Linked DNA regions of Homo sapiens: region 1 is linked to region 2. The links come from fine-mapping of genetic effects on gene expression. A gene starts in region 2. The other region holds a variant in brackets. All regions are shown on one strand. Distances are from middle to middle.

Evidence for each region. PIP is the estimated chance that this variant, and not a neighbour inherited with it, causes the effect.
Region 1: its variant is fine-mapped to the expression of GGA2 in whole blood (INTERVAL, PIP 0.90).

The regions. Positions count from the first base shown.
Region 1 is chr16:23,385,749-23,395,117 of GRCh38, reverse strand. It overlaps COG7 (component of oligomeric golgi complex 7), which reads left to right. Exons shown (of 17, transcript NM_153603.4): 15 at 1,771-1,885; 16 at 2,595-2,738; 17 at 6,032-6,625. The coding sequence ends at 6,198. Among named protein-coding and RNA genes, the nearest start is that of COG7, 63 kb to the left of the region's middle. The variant C/T (reference allele first, on the strand shown) is at 4,624.
Region 2 is chr16:23,506,678-23,514,677 of GRCh38, reverse strand. It overlaps GGA2 (golgi associated, gamma adaptin ear containing, ARF binding protein 2), which reads left to right and starts at 4,184. Exons shown (of 17, transcript NM_015044.4): 1 at 4,184-4,357. The coding sequence starts at 4,267. RefSeq lists silencers at 3,908-3,957, 4,028-4,257, 4,328-4,497.

The DNA of each region.
Region 1 (9,369 bases), 120 kb after region 2:
GGGACGCCAGTCCAGGCACAGTGGGTCACGCTTGTAATCCCAGCACTTTGGGAGGCCGAGGTGGGCGGATCACCTGAGGTCAGGAGTTCAAGACCAGCCTGGCCAACATGGTAAAACCCCGTCTCTACTAAAAATACAAAAAAAATTAGCCAGGTGTGGTGGTGGGCACTTGTAATCCCAGCTACTCGGGAGGCTGAGGCAGGAGAATTGCTTGAACCCAGGAGGCGGAGGTTGCAGTGAGCCGAGATTGCACCATTGCACTCCAGCCTGGGCAACAAGAGCAAAACTCTGTCTCAAAAAAAAAAAAGAAAAAAGAAAAAAGGAACACCAAACTAATAATGGATGTTTACACTTACACAGCCAAACCATATTGAATGTTTGGAAAGAAGGGCATGATCATCCTGTAGTTCTCTGGTCTGGGTAGATTTTCGAGTCTGTGTTAACTTCTGGACACTACACCCTGAAAGGAGCCCGCTGTTACGTAGACATGTGTGAGGCCAGATTGAGAAGCTCTTGCTTTGATAGTCTCCTGACTTTTAGTTTACAGAGTTAATTAACAGTGACAGGAATGTCATGGAATGAATATGTAGCAGGAAGAAAAAAAAAACAACAACAGGCAGAAAGACCTTTTAAAAACATATATTATCATTTTGAAACCTGAAAAGTCAACCCCCTTATTTTGAAACAAAACACATACTTAACCTTAAAACACAAAACAATGAATTACAATAGAAATAGGAAACAGTGGTCTAAAATACACTCTTGGCATCACGTGGATATCTGACAAACACATGACCAAGACTGTGCTAATTGTGGGCATGTCCTAAATGTCTTTTAGGACAATTGCAAATGACCTTTTGCAATTCCCCACCAGCCAAGGTTTTGTCTATCTTTAGTTTCAAGAGTTTATATTATGAAAACAATATAGTTTTTTCTCCAAAGTAATTTATAGTTATAAATGGCTTTTTTTCAAACAGAATTCCTTTCTTCTTCTGGTTAAATTATCTAGGAGGGAGAGAATCAGATCCAAATCCAGAAGACAGGTTTTTTTTTTTTTTTTCTGAGACAGAGTCTCTTTTTTTTTGAGACAGAGTCTGCCCAGGCTGCAGTGCAATGGCATGATCTTGGCTCACTGCAACCTCCGCCCCCGCCGAGTTCAAGTGATTTTCCTGCCTCAGCCTCCCGAGTAGCTGGGATTACAGGTGCCTGCCACCATCCCCGGCTAATTTTTGTACTTTTAGTAGGATAGGGCTTCACCATGTTGGCCAGGCTGGTCTTGAACTCCTGACCTCAGGAGATCCATCCGCCTCGGCCTCCCAAAGTGCTGGGATTACAGGTGTGAGCCACTGTGCCTGGCCTCAGAAGACAGGATTTGAATTCTTGCTTGGCCCCACACATTCTGACACTAGTATCTTACTGGTTTTTCACCTATGAACAGTAATAATACTTATATTTACACAATGCTTCAAATTTTACAAAGCATTTTGATATCCATTACTTCATTGGAGATAGAGATTGTGTTGAATGCATTTCAAAAATATTGAGGTCATTATAAGAAGGATGAATCTATAATCTATATGCAAGCTACCAGTGATTCTTTTTTAGGGTACTGCCATAACAAGCATCGCCACATACTAGAAAGATCAGACTTGGGATCACCCGAGGTCTAGCAATTTTGTCTCTCTGCCGTTTGCCTTCACACAAATGTACCCATAAAGTAATAACCCGTATGTGTCAATGTCAGGCTAACAGCGCTTTCTTTTGTTTCAGATCGGGCAGTACATCATGTCCCTCCCCCTGAATCTTGAGCCATTTGTGACTCAGGAGGACTCTGCCTTAGAGTTGGCATTGCACGCTGGAAAGCTGCCATTTCCTCCTGAGCAGGGTAAGCGGGGACCGTTTCTGGCGATGTTACAAGTCAAGCTGTCAGTTTCCAGGGTAGAAACTCCAGATGACACCTTATCCTTGGGCTCATTTGTCACCAAGTCCTGTTTTTTTTTAACCTTCTAACATGTACTTTTTGTACACATGCTGTATCTAAAACAATATCACAACTTGAAAAATCTATAACCACATCCCACTGCGGAACGCACTGGTATTTCCACTTTCGCTTGTGCCTTCTGGCTCTGCTCTGTAAGCAGATGGTATTTTGTATGTAACTTTGTATTCTGTATTATTGTTATTATTGAGACAGAGTCTTGCTGTGTCACCTAGGCTGGAGTGCAGTGGCGCGATCTTGACTCACCACAACCTCCGCCTCCTGGGTTCAAGCAATTCTCCTGCCTCAGCCTCCTGAGTAGCTGGGACTACAGGCGCGCACCACCACGCCTGGCTAATTTTTGTATTTTTAGCAGAGACGGGGGTTTCACCATGTTGGCCAGGCTGGTCTCGAACTTCTGACCTCAAATGATCCGCCTGCCTCATCCTCCTAAAGTGCTGGGATTACAGGCATGAGCCACTGCACCTGGCCCTAAGATGTAACTGTTTTCGGTTTCCTGTGTTTGCCATTGAGATCAGAAGCTTCCTGGTACTTTGGTGCATTCAGCAGCTACTGCAGGCCTGTGTTTTCCTTGGTGACCTCCTTTTCTTTTCAGGGGATGAATTGCCCGAGCTGGACAACATGGCTGACAACTGGCTGGGCTCGATCGCCAGAGCCACAATGCAGACCTACTGTGATGCGATCCTACAGATCCCTGAGCTGAGCCCACACTCTGCCAAGCAGCTGGCCACTGACATCGGTGGGTCCCCACAAGACAGGCGGTGGGAGGGACAGCTCTTGCCTGCTGCATCTGTCAGTTTCTCCTTTGCCCTCCAGGAATCTCATCCCAAGTCTTCCCTTAGCTTCAGCTGTGGATTTGGCTCTGAAGCTGGTTGAAAATTCAGGTTCTCCAGGCCCTGCCCCAGAGATTCTGACTTAGCAAGACCGGGCTGAAGCTCAGACATCTATGTTTTCGAAGAGGACTTGAGAACCGTTGAGGGGAGCTTCAGTGAGATAAGATTCAGCGAGTCCTGCAGCCTGGCCCCACCTGGCCCGCTCCATTTGTGCCATAATTCCCAACCAGTGTTTAATGAGCTCTTACTGCATACCAGGCATGCCTGGCGCTGGACCAAGCACTCGCACCCATCGTCTTATGTAATTCCAAACTCCCCTGTGAGGTGGGTGCTCTCTTCTCCATCATACCGATAGGGAACGGAGGCCCAGGGCAGTTCCATAACAAGGCCATGTGGCCAGGGTCACTTTGTGGTCTCCATCCAGATAGCATCCTGCCTGCCAAGTCAGTGGGCGTGTCCCCTTTGCTCCTGCCTGCCCTCTTCACTGGAGGGCCTCACTGCCCAGGTGTACTCTGAGCATGGGGCTACTGCTGGCAGGTGGCAGGGAGTCTCCCCAGTCTCTTGATGCCATTCCAATACCTTGTCTGCTCTTTAGCCTAACGCACCTCTCGGGGTGGTCAGGAGAGCGGGTGGTAGAAGCCTGAAAGATCAGCTCCCTGGGGACACAGCCAGAGCTTCGTCCTCAGTGACCACAGGGCTGAGCCAGGCTCAACCGGCTTCTGGCTCTTGTTTTGCAGAAGAAGAACTAGAAGCAAGGTGCTTTCCTCCGGGTCCCAGAGCTGTTAGTGATGGAGCCAGGCCTGGGATCCAGCTTTCCTGAGTTCCTGACCCCTGCTCATTTCATAGTCAGCTCTCAGCACTTACCAGAGGAACAGGCAGCCTTTTGGCTACTGCCCTTCAGAGAAAGAGAGATGAGAGAATTCAAATGCGTGTTGGTGTTCCCTGTTAGTACAAGCAGCAGCAGGGGGAAGAACTGGAACTAGTGAGTGGAGTGAAATCTAGGGATTGCCCCTCAGTTTCAGTTGTCCTTGTTATTCCTCCCTGTTAAGCTCCCCCTGCAGATTCATTTCTTCACTCATTCAGCATTGCTCGAGCATCTGTGTGCCAGCTGTAGTTCTAGGAGATAGAGACAACAAAGCTTTAGGCAGCTCCCATGCTTAGTGAGCTTACACTGTAAGGATGTACGGTTAGGGGCAGGGAAGGTAAGGCTAGTATATGAAACTGACAGGGTATAAGGCGACAGAGTGGTGAGGTCTGTGGCAAAGCATGCACACCTGAAAGACATTCAAATTAAGCATGAGCACAAACAGAACAAAAAACACTGCTCGCCAAACAAAAATGTCCTAGTAGACTGTGGGCCCGCTCTTTGCAGCTCTTGGCTGACAGTCAAGTGGAGCTCACGGTTTTATGGATAAACTTGTAAAGGAGTAAGTACGTGCCTGGCGGCACCTTTGCTGGGAAGCAGCTCTTCCTGAGTCAGCCGTGACAGAGCAGGCATCTCCTCCTGGCCCTGCCCTGAGTGGGGCCTAAAAAGAAAACACAGGGGGCTGGGCACCATGGCTCATGCCTGTAATCCCAGCACTTTGGGAGGCCGAGGCAGGAGGATCGCTTGGGCCTAGGAGTTTGAGGCCAACCTGGGCAACATAGTGAGACCCTGTCTCTACAAAATATTAAAAACAAAACAAAACAAAAAACACAAGGAAAGTTGAGGCCTTGCCTGGAGCTCCACTTTAGTCAAGGAGAAGAGATGAACCCAAGATCAGAAAGTAGCCGGTGGGGGGGCACTGAGCG[C/T]GGTGGCTCATGCCTGTAATCCCAGCACTTTGGGAGGCTGAGGTGGGTGGATCACCTCAGGTCAGAAGTTTGAGACCAGTCTGGCCAACATGGCGAAACCCCGTCTCTACTAAAAATACAAAAAATTAGCCAGGCGTGGTGGTAGGCGCCTGTAATCCCATCTACTTGAGAGGCTGAGGTAGGAGAATTGCTTGAACCCAGGAGGCGGAGGTTGCAGTGAGCCGAGATCGCAGCATTGCACTCCAGCCTGGGCAACAAGAGTGAAACTCTGTCTCAGAAAAGAAAAAAAAAAAAAAAAAAAAAACTAGCCAGGGGCATATCGGGTGGTGCTGTCTTCTAGTCTTTCCAAGCATGAACTGGGAGGAGCTGGAGAAGGCTTTGCAAGGCTTCCCTTGGGTTGGGTTGCACTGCCCAGGCAGGAGGGAAAGGCAGCATTGATATATTGATCACCTGCGACACATCAGGTGCTCTCATGTTCGTTTCCCGCTTCATCCCCTATCCATGCTGCCGGATGGGTGGTAACTGTGGACAGATGGAAGCAGAGACTCAGGGAGGTAGAAGGGCTTCTCTGAGGTCACACCTGGCTGCACCTGGTTTGCTCCCCCATGCTGTCTGTTTTGCCCAAGCTTGCCTGGTGGTTAGAACCACCGGGGTCGCTTTGTAGAATGACAGAACCCTAGAATCCTCTCTTGGGATGCTCATCAACCTAGTCTGGGGGTAGGCTCAGAAATCTGTATCCGATTGTATCCCCAGTGCCTCAGGGGTCATCTGGGAAATGTGGAAACCTGTGTTATACCAGGGTCCCACCCCAGACACTGTCCTTGTCTTCACTGCGGCGTTCTGACTGGAGGTCTTTAGTAACTGCTCAGACAAGCTTGTGTGTCTCCTGACCCTCTGGGTTTTCCAAGTGGTCAGTGGATACCCTGGGGGCCAGGGCTTGGAACCCAGGAGTCCCCAGAACAGAGCTTTGGGTGAGGTCAGCTGGTCCTTCAGACTGGTGCTGAAGGCGGGTGTGTGCATGTGAGTGTGAGTGTGGATGTGAGAGTGTGTGCATGTGAGTGTGTGTACATGTGAGTGTGTGTGCGAGTTTGTGTGAGTTTGGATGTGAGAGTGTGTGTGCGTGTGTGTGCATGTGAGTGTGTATGTGTGTGGTTGGGGATGGGAGTGATGTTGGTTAGTTCTTTATTAAATTAGAGTTCCTAGACTCGAGCCAAGCTCACAGTCTGGTCTGACACTGTGGGAAGAACCTGGTGAGTAAAGGGCCTATTGAGGGCAGGGTTGGCGCCCCACATCTAGGGACTTGGCAGGGCAGCTTCTCTGTGTCGTATTCAGGGGAGGCCCTGTGGGGCTCTGACCTGCTTGGTGCTGAGTCTGTGGAGCTCTGTCTGTCTCCTCTCCGCCCCCACAGACTATCTGATCAACGTGATGGATGCCCTGGGCCTGCAGCCGTCCCGCACCCTCCAGCACATCGTGACGCTACTGAAGACCAGGCCTGAGGACTATAGACAGGTCAGCAAAGGCCTGCCCCGTCGCCTGGCCACCACCGTGGCCACCATGCGGAGTGTGAATTACTGACCCCACCACACACCGGACCACCAAGAGAGCCAGGGCTGCTGTTTCGCGACTCACCAGCACAGATTTGCTCAGAAACTCTGCCCAAGATTGGGCAGAAGTTACTTTAAAAAGACTTGGTTCAGCTGGTCACGGTGGCTCACGCCTGTAATCCCAGCACTTTGGGAGGCCAAGCCAGATGGATCATGAAGCCAGGAGTTCGAGACCAGCCTGACCAACATGGTGAAACCCCATCTCTACTAAAAATACAAAAATTAACAGCAGAGCGAGACTCTGTCTCAAAAAAAAAAAAAAAAAAGACTTGGTTCATTTGTATAATCAAAAAGAGTTGTAAATTAAAGATGTATTATTTATCAGAGAAGACTTTTTAGATAATTTTTTTAAAGGATCAGATCTTGAAAATGGAATAAATAACTACTGTGAAATGCAAGAAGACTGTTTCCTTCTTCTTTTTTTTTCCCCCTCACTCTTTCACCCAGGCTGGAGTGCAGTGGTGTGATCTTGGCTCACTGCAGCCTCCGCCTCCTGGGCTCAAGTGATTCTCCCCCTTCAGCCTCCCGAGTAGCTAGGATTACAGGCACCCGCCACCACGCCCGGCTAATTTTTGTATTTTTAGTAGAGATGGGGTTTTGCCATGTTGGCCAGGCTGGTCTCAAACTCCTGACCTTAAGTGATCTGCCTGCCTCAGCCTCCCAAAGTGCTGGGATTACAGGTGTGAGCCACTGCACCCAGCCTCTTACTTCTTCAGTGCATTTTTTAGTGCTTCCCACATGTCTGCCATGTTGTGCGCACTGGGAATGTCTAGGGATATGGGTCCTCCCCTGTAGCTTATGTTCAGTGGGAGAGGGAGGGAGAAGAAGGTAAATGGGGATAATTTCAGAGGTAAGTGCTAGCAGAAAAGCGGGTGTCAGGGTGGAAGCTGGCACTGCATAAAGTGGGCAGCCCGAGACCTACAGAGTAAGAGCCATGTGGCAGAGAGTGAAGGAGGAGGTGCGTTCAGGCCCAGGGAGTGGTGCAGACCGGGCCCTGAGGCATGTCCAAGGGCGGCTGGGGCAGGAGAGGAGGGGCTTCATGGAGGAAAGGGTGAAGCAGTATCCCTGGAGAAGCTGGGGGCCAGATCATAAGGGGGCTCGTCAGCCATGGTAAGGAATTAGGCTTTCAGTTTTTTCCTTTTTTTTTTTTGAGACAAGGTTTCACTCTGTCACCCAGGCTGGAGTGCAGTGGCACAATCGCAGCTCACTGCAGCCTCGAATTCTTGGGCTCAAGCAACTCCCCCGCTTCAGCCCGTTAAATAGCTGAGACTGCAGATGGAGACCACCATACCTGGCTAATTTTTTAAAACATTTTTTGTAGGAACGGGATCTTGCTTTGTTGCCCAGGGTGGTCTCGAACTCTGAGGCTCAAGTGATCCTCCTGCCTTGGCCTCCAAAGTGCTAGGATTACGGGTGTGAGCCACTGTGCCTGGCCCACATTTTTTCTTTTTTAAAATGTATGGTGTATGAACTTCAGTGTTTTTCATTAATAGCGTCTATCTGTTAAGATTATATTTGGCTATAAGTAATGGAATAACGTAATTTGAGTGACTTAAACAGAAATTAATTTTTCTTGATAACAAGAAATAAAAAGAAGTAAAAGGTGGCTGGGCACGGTGGCTCACGCCTATAATTCCAGCACTTTGGGAGGCTGAGGCAGGCAGATCACCTGAGGTCAGGAGTTCAAGACAAGCCTGGCCAACATGGCAAAACCCCGTCTCTACTAAAAATACAAAAATTAGCTGGGCATGGTGGTGCGTGCCTGTAATCCCAGCTACTCTGGAGGCTGAGGCAGGAGAATTGCTTGAACCCAGGAGGCAGAGGTTGCAGTGAACCCAGATAGCGCCACTGCACTCCAGCCTGGGTGACAGAGTGAGACTCCATCTCAAAAAAAAAAAAAAAAAAATAGTGGTGGCTACAGGCACTGATTTAGTGGCTGGTTGGAGTCAGGCCCTGTGATTTGAAACTTAGCCCCATGTGCTGGAGGCCTCATCGTGGCAGGTGACTCTTGCAACTGCAGGTGCTGCATCTGCATTCAGGGAAAAAGGGAGCAGAGAAGGTAGAGCAGCAATTCTGTCCCTTCTATCATGCAAGTGGCGGCTTCCCTGGAAGCCCTGGCCAGCCTTCTCCTAGCCCTCACTGGCTGTTTCTCAGTCATGAGGCATCCCCGCTACAAAGGAGGCGGGAAAGCCCAGGCTGGCTTCTACCAGCGTTTCTCAGCCTTGGCTATTGACGTTTTGGGCTGTACAGCTCTGCGTTTGACGCTGTTCTGTGCGTTGCAGGCTGTTTAACTTTCCTGACCCACTAGATGCCAGTAGTATTTTCCTAGTTGTGAAACCAAAAATGTCTCCAGAAACTTCCTCCAGTTGAGAAACACTGGCTTAGACCAATCAGGATTTATAGCCTGAGCTGGGCTTATTGGCTGCCTTGATTGGGTTTCTGTTAACAAGAAAGAAAGGGGATGGCAGTGGTGCCTGTCACAGGGGCTGTCATTGGAATTGAGCCCTGCCTGGGTCTCAGGGGCTGGGCTGAGCTCTGCCTCTCTCTGGGATGTCTCACTTAAACCTCACCACAGACTGGGCATAGTGGCTCACACCTGTAATCCTAGGGCTTTGGGAGGCTGAGGCGGGAGGATCGCTTGAGGCCACGAGTCTGAGACCAGCTTGGGCAACATAGTGAGACCCTGTCTCTACAAAAAAAAAATACAACAATTAGCCTGTGGTGGTGCACACCTTTGGTTTCAGCTACTTTGGAAGCTGAGGTGGGAGGATTGCTTGTGCTTGGGAGTTTGAGGCTGCAGTGAGCCAAGATTGCACCATTACACTCCAGCCTGGGTGATAGAGCAACACTCATCTCTATAAAAAATTTTTAAAAATTATCTGGGCTTGGTGGTGGGCACCTGTAGTCCCAGCTACTCAAGAGGGTGAGACAGGAGGCTCACTGGAGCCCAGGAATTGGAGGTTGCAATGAGCTGTGATCTCGCCACTGCCCTCCAGCCTGGGTGACAGTGAGACCCTGTGTCAATCAATCAATATATAAATAAATAAACAGACCTCACTCTAGCCTTGGGAGGCGGGGAGTCTTATCCACAGTGTGGCAAGGTTTAAGGACTTTCCTAGAGCCATTCAGCTACCCTGTGGCA
Region 2 (8,000 bases):
GAGTTTGAGACCAGCCTGGGCAACATGGTGAGACCTTATCTCTACAAAACTAAATAAATTAGCTGGGAGCGGTGGTGTGTGTGCCTGTTATCCCAGCTACTCTCTGAGGACTGAGGTTGCGAAGATCATTTGAGCCTGGGAGGTCAAGGCTGCAGTGAGCTCTGGTGGTGCCACGGAACTCCAGCCTGGTTGACAGAGCAAGACCCTGTCTCAAAAAAAAAAGGCTAACAAGAGAAAAGCATAACAGATTTATTTAATTAAAGTTTTACAGGCCGGGCACAGTGGCTTACTCTTGTAATCCCAGCATTTTGGAAGGCTGAGGTGGGCGGATCATTTGAGGTCAGCAGTTCAAGACCAGCTTGGCCAACATGGTGAAATCCCGTGTCTACAAAAAAATTCCAAAATTAGCCAGGCATGGTGGCGGGGTGCCTGTATTCCCAGCTACTCGGGAGACTGAGGCAAGAGAATCAATTGAACCTGGGAGGCAGAGGTTGCAGTGAGCCAAGATCGAGCCACTGCACTCCAGCCTGGGCGACAGGACTTCATCAAAAAAAGTTTCATCAAAAAAAAAAAAGTTTTATGTTGACATGGGAGCTTTCAGAAATAAAGACCGAGGGAAGGCTGTCTACTTTTATATTTAGGTTTGATGACCAACAGCCAGGTAGAAATAGGATTGAACAAAATGGTATGAGTGATCTATTAGACTTAGGTGGGGGGATCCAGCAAGGCCTGTCCAAATTCTTCTTGGCTTACCTGTATATCACTCCTTCTTCCTAGGTATAGGGCAGGAATAAGGGGGCATGACCACCTGTTATCAGACAAAGTAGCTCAGATAATTGCTTTTTTTTTCTTTTCTTTTCTTTTCTTTTTTTCTTTCTTTTTTTTTTTTTTTTTGAGACAGAGTCTCATTCCGTGCCCAGGCTGGAGTGCAGTGGTGTGATCTCGGCTCACTGCAACCTCCGCCTCCCAGGCTCAAGTGGTCCTCCTGCCTCAGCCTCCTGAGTAGCTGGGACTACAAGTACACACCAGCACACCCAGCTAATTTTTGTATTTTTTTGTAGACACGCGGTTTCACCATGTTGCCCAGGCTAGTCTTGAACACCTGGACCCAAGTGATCTGCACGCCTCAGCCTCCCAAAGTGCTGGGATTACAGGTGTGAGCCACCATGCCCGACTGAGAATTTCTTTATGGCCAACTCTTAAGCAGAAATAAAGGAAGGCTGGAGTAATATGTCTAGGTTTTGTGGCTGGCTTTAGGGGAGAGGGGTTTGAGTTTCCCTGACCCATCTTGGGAAAGAGGAATTGAGTTTCTGTGGCTTGCCTTGGGAGAAGAAAGACGGGCAGGAGGTCAGAGAACCTTTGCTCTGAGGCTGCTTCTGAGGGTTTCCACTGTCTTTGAGTTCAAAGTACTCGCTATGCCAAAACACCATGCTCTGGGATATGGTTTTCTGAGCTCCAACAATGTAAAAATGTTAAAGGATTGCAGGTGCTTAAAATAAGTAAAGTTTCAGGAGTTGAAGGATGGTCCTTGGCAAACTGTAGAGCTCATGCCCCCTGTAGCATGTGGAGACTCTAGTCACGTCCAGGTTTTGTTGAAATGTGGAAAGCCGGGTCCAGTGTTGCCAGATGTTCAGAATCTTCAAGAGATAAATATGTATTAAAGATTTTATTTAGGCCAGGTGCAGTGGTTCACGCCTGTAATTCCGACACTTTGGGAGGCCGAGGTGGGCGGATCACCTGAGGTTAGGAGTTCGAGAGCAGCCTGGCCAACCTGGTGAAACGCTGTCTCTACTAAAGATACCAAAATTAGCCGGGTGTGGTGGTGGGCGCCTGTATTCCCAGCTGCTCAGGAGGCTGAGGCAGGGGAATCACTTGAACCCAGGAGGCAGAGGTTGCAGTGAACTGAGATTGCACCATTGCACTCCAGCCTGGGCAACAGAGCGAGACTCAAAAAAAAAAAAAAAAAAAAAAAAAAAAGATTTTCTTTAACTCCTTAATGAGGAAACTGGTGAGATGTTCAAACCAGTCCAAAGAATGGACATCATGTATAGATCAGGAATGTTGAAATGGATGTGCAAGTGGGGGCAGAACTGGTTTTTCCACAAGAAGTCTGTGTGTTCCCAGAACAGTATTCATTTGCTTGTGTGTGGACAAGAATCATCACCCATTGCTATTCAGTTATCTACAAGGAAGAATTTGTGCTTCTGTATGGCATACGTACCTATGGTCTAAGAAGAATGTGTGTTCTGAGTTCCAAGCTACAGAATCACAGAGTGGCCAGCCCAGAGGTTCACTCTTTATCTAAGAGGAACATCTGAACCCTTGGCCCCATCCTGTGGAACGCAGGCCATACGGGGGATCAAGGCCCTTTGGGGTTAAATTGAGGTTGCCAGATGGAGGTTGCTAGGGGAAGGGTGCTAGTTGAAAATACTATATAAACTGATGCTCTTTACAAATGGTAGTGGTCCTCCTGTCCAGCCCACTGCCACTAGACCACCCCGTAAGTCCCCTCAGTAAACCTGCCTCATTCAGTGGCTCTGGGTCTCTTCTTCCGCCTTTCAAACATGGTGCCATCCCTACTGAAGTTAATAGGGGTACGGCACAACAGCTTCAATGGAAAATTATGTGTTGTCTAGACAGCACAACCTTCCAGGTTCTAGCCTTTCTTTGTCTTTGAGAAGTCTCATAACTCTGTTAAGTTGATACCAATGCAAAATAATTCTTGCCTATAAATAGGTAAATTCCGCTCACTGGAGGGACAGCTCTCACCCCGGTCGAAAAGCCAGTTTTGCCTCCATTTGCACATTCGTCTTATCTTCCTTTTTTTCCAGATAAATTTGCCCTTCTTTGACTTCACTTTTGGATTGATTATAACATCTGCTTGGTTCCCTCATGTAATTAAATAAAATATTTAACACGTATTCATTTCATAATTATGATAATCATGACATACTTTTTTGGGAAAATTATCTTTTAACAGAATAAGCAAGTAAATAATACATCGATGGTGTACTGTGTGATGCAGAAAATAAAGCAGAGTATTGAGGAATGCAGGACATGTTAGTTTAGAAGTGTTCCAGGAAACCAGGGAGGTGGAGGTTGCAATGAGCCGAGATAGCACCACTGCACTCCAGCCTGGGCGACAGAGCGAGACTCCATCTGAAAAAAAAAAAAAGTGTTCCAGGAAAACCCTTCTGTGAATAAAAATGCAAGCACATAGGCCGGGCGTGGTGGCTCACCCCTGTAATCCCAGCACTTTGGGAGGGCGAAGCGGGCAGATCACGAGGTCAGGAGTTCGAGACCAGCCTGGCCAACATAGTGAACCCTCGTTTCTACTAAAAATACAAAAAAAAAAAAAATAGCTGGGTGTGGTGGCATGCACCTGTAGTCCCAGCTACTCGGGACGCTGAGGCAGGAGAATCGCTTGAACCCAGGAAGTGGAGGTTGCAGTGAGCCGAGATGGCACCCCTGCACTCCAGCCTAGGCGACAGAGTGAGACTCCGTCTCAAAAAAAGAAAAAAAGAAAAATAAAAAATAAATGCAAGCACTTTGGGAAGTCGAGGTAAGAGGATCTTGTAGCCCAGGAGTTCGAGACCACCCGGGCAACATGGTGAAACCCAGTCTCTAACACACACACACACACACACACACACACACACACGGTGAAACCCAGTCTCTAACACCAGGAGTTCGAGACCACCCGGGCAACATGGTGAAACCCAGTCTCTAACACACACACACACACACACACACACACACACACACACACACGGTGAAACCCAGTCTCTAACACACACACACACACACGCCAGGCGTGGTGGTGCCCTCCCCTAGTCCCAGCTCCTCCGGAGACTGAAGCGGGAGGATCGCTTGAGCCTAGGAGGTGGAGGCTGCAGTGAGCCGTGATCGCGCCATTGGACTCCAGCCTGAGTGACAGAGCAAGACCCCGTCTCTTAAAAAATAAAAATGCTAAAAGAATTATTCGTGTTCTTCTGAAAATCAAATTTAACTGGGCGTCTTGTATTTTATCTGGCAACCGTACGGTGAGTGGTCTTAGAAGACCAGCGCTGGGTGGAGGGATCTGGACTAAGAAATGTTCCGGCCGGTCCCGCGTGGAGGGGGGGCCTGGGGTGGGCGTGGCGCCAGCGGCCCCGCCCCGTCACGTGTCCACCGCTCCTGCCGCGCAGTCAGCAGAGGAGAGCGCCAGGACGCTACAGCGGCTGAAGAGGCAGTGGCGCCCGCGGCCGCAGCGTCGGGGCTGGAGCGATGGCGGCGACCGCGGTGGCGGCGGCTGTGGCGGGAACCGAGTCGGCCCAGGGTCCCCCGGGCCCGGCAGCGTCGCTGGAGCTGTGGCTCAGTGAGTAGCCTGGCAGGCCTTCGGCGCAGCCGCTGCGCCGCACGTGAGGCCTCGCTTCCCGCCTCCCGGGGCCTTGCTTCGGGGCGGGCGGCCGCAGGGGAGGCCGGCGGCCGGGTAGGGGGCCTGGGCCCGGCGCGGTGGGGAAGATCGCCCAGGGGTCCCCCGAGAGGAGCCCCAAGCATCCGCCGGGGCAGCGGCCCCCTTCTGAGCTCTGCCCCTCCCCCTCCGCCCACCCCCCAACTTAGCAGCAGCACAGGACCCCGACCCCCACCCCAATGGCTACGTGACCTGCGCTTTCCCCTGCGCCAGGCACTGTGCTCACAGCGGCTTAGTCCTGCTTAATCCTCATTCCCACCCCGAGCTGGCTTCTATTATTAACCCCACTACGGAAGCGGGGACCTTGAGGCTTAAGGAGACGCAGTCGTGCAAGACATGCAGTCTGTTTGGGGCTGAGAAAGATCTCTATCTGGCTACCGCGTCAAAAAGAAATTTTTTACCTTTTGTGTTTACTTTGGCCAGACTTTTTTTTTTAAACACACACACACGTGTGTGTGTGTGTGCGTATATATATATATGTGTGTTTTTTTTTTCCTTTAAGAGACGGGGTCTCATTATGTTACCCTGGTTGGGCTCAAACCCTTTGGCCAGAATTCTTCTGCATGTCTCCTGTAAGCTTCACAGTCATCTTAGGGGTTATTATTATCTCCGTTTTACCAATGAGGGATTGAGGTTCAAAGGGGATAAAGAATATTCCCCTTGTACCCAGCTCTGCTAGGTGCCAGGAACACTGAGATGCATAACACAGGGTCCTTGCTCACCAAAACATTTTTTAGTGGGTACAAGCCGGCAGTCACATCACCTTACTAACGGGATTGGCGAGGAGGAGGAGGGCGTTCGTTTCACCTGTGGTGGTAGGAGTTGGTTTACCTGGGGGTCGTCACAGCCGACCGCATTCCAGGCAGAAGAAACTGCGTGTGCAAAAGCTGGGGACAAGAGAATGTGGAGCACTCCGGGAACAAGTAGGTCAGTCCGCTGGAGTGCAAGCCTAAAGCTCAGGAATCCGGGAAAGGGGCTGCACGGCTAATTGGGGCGAGATCTTCAAGAGCCTTGTGTGCTGCAGAAAGGAGTTTATGTTTTATCCGAGGGCGGGGTTGCTGTTTGGGAGTTTTCAGCCGGAGAATCTGATCAAGGAAGCCTGTTAAAGGCGTCACTTGCAGCCATATGGTGCTAAATTGGGCGGAGAGGGTGAGACTTCAGGCAGGGAGAGCGGCTAAAAAGCTCTTTTGGTGGTGGTTGGGGGCCGCAGGAGGACTAAGGCAGTGGGGAGAGGGAGAAGCAATGAGCAGGCGTAGTCAGCAGCCTCGGTGCCTTGGAATGCAGACAGGGGACAAGGAGAAATCTAGGCTAGATCGCGGGTTTCAGGCTCGAGGAACTGGTGGGTTACAGATGCCTCCCCTGTGAGGAGGAGCTGGTTTAGGCAGAGAAGGTTGAGATGTGGAGTTTGAGGTGCTTGTGGCATAGTCAAAAAAGAGATGCCCTCTAGGCAGCTGGTTGGCACTGGAGAGGGCAAGTGTGGGACGTACGGTTTGGGAGTCTGGTTCATTGGCAGTGAGCTTGCGGGAGAAGCTTGCGTATATTAAGAGCAGAGGTTTGGAAAGAGAGCGTGGGGAGCCCCAGCATTGAAGAGGCAGATGGGAAGAGAAGACTGAAGGCTGAGCAGAAACAGGCAGGGGGAGACCTGCAGGGGCACCCACTGATAGCAAAGGAGGGATGTGGTTGTAACGTAGTTTTGCTCCTTAAAGATGGAGGAGAATGAGGAAGGAGAAGAGAGAACTTTGAATTTGGTAACCAACCAGTTATTTAATGAGACATCCTTGAGTTAAACAGTAGAGACAGAAGGTAGTAGTTTTAGGAGGCAATGGAGAACAGAAGGCTTAGACTGGAGTTGCAAAAATTAGAAAAAAAGGCTGTTCATGCCTGTAATCGCAGCACTTTGGGAGGCTGAGGTGGGCCAATCCTTTGAGGCCAGGAGTTTAAGACCAGCCTGGCCAACATGGTGAAACCCCGTCTCTACTAAAATACAAAAAATAGCCATGTGTGGTGGCGCACACCTGTAATTCCAGCTACTTGGGAGGCCGAGGTGGGAGGATCACTTGAACCCTTGGGGCAGAGGTTGTGGAGGTGGAGCCAAGATTGCACCGCTGCACTCCAGCCTAGGTGACAAGGCGAGATTCTGTCTCAAAAAAAAAAAAAAAAAGTAGCCGGAGTAAGAGAAAGTAGCTGCCTCAGGTGGAGGAGATAAAAGGAGTGCCTGGAACTGAGGCTGCCCAAGGACACAGTTCTTCAACTCCAGCTTTTTTTGAAACAGAGTCTCACTGTGTCACCCAGGCTGGAGTGCAGCGGCATGATCTCAGCTCACTGCAGCTTACCCCTCTCCTGGGCTCAAGCATTTTTCCCACATCAGCCTCCCCAGTTCTAGCTTTTTTTAAATGTATTTTTATTTATTTATTTATTTATTTTTGAGATGGAGTCTTGCTCTGTTGCCCAGGCTGGAGTGCAGTGGTGCCATCTCGGCTCTCTGCAACCTCTGCCTCCTTGGTTCAAGCAATTCTCCTGCCTCAGCCTCCCAAGTAGCTGGGATTACGGGCACACGCCACCACAACCGGCTAATTTGTGTGTGTGAGAGAGAGAGAGAGAGATGGAGTTTCATTCTTGTCCAGGCTGGAGTACAGTGGCACGATCTCAGCTCACTGCAACGTCCGCCTCCCAGGTTCAAGCAATTCTCCTGCCTCAGCCTCCCAAGTAGCTGGGATTACAGGCATTAGCCACCATGTCTGGCTAATTTTTGTATTTTTAGTAGCGATAGGGTTTCACCATGTTTGTCAGGCTGGTCTCAAACTCCTGACCTCAAGTTATCTGCCAGTCTTGGCCTCCCGAAGTGCTGGGATTATAGGCATGAGCCTGGCCTAATTTGTGTTTTATTATTATGGTTTTTTTCATGGCATATACATTGTATTAAGCTCCAGCTTTTGGGGGCAGTGTCCCAAAGTTGCTAGATCTTCCTGTTTTTCAGGAACGGCTAGAACCTATATTCTTAAGTGAAATATCGTGGGTTTTCAGAAGTTGGTGCCTACTTTGGCCCATAATTTGGGGAAGGCCAGGCAGAATAAATGTGTGGGGAGGGTGCAGCCAGTGGCCTCCTCAGCTGTTTTTCATGAGTCTTGAATGTAGAAGGAGGGGGAGAGAATAGCGAGAGGGAATTTAGGAGTAAAGGAGATTATTAGAAGGAGAGGGGGACATGTGAGCCCCTCTTCATGTTGATGTTCCATTGGGGAACTGCCCCTCCCCCATTCTGGGTCCAGTGTCCCATCCATTGCAGAGGGGCCTGAAGGTGCTGAAGGAGCTCAGAGCCAGAGCAAAAAGGGGGACCTGGCCTCACAGAGAGGAAGGACACCTTTTGTTTTTCTGACTGTCTGGCGAAGGAGATCAAGATGATTGCACATGCAAACAAGTTCGTCAGTGCCACCATTGCCACCTGAGTATTGGGTGCTCAAGTGGAACAGGGGACTTGAGGAAGGTGGGGAAGCGTTGGGGAGTGGCTGGTGAGGCAAACCGAAGTGGGCCCACCCGGACGGAGAGCTGG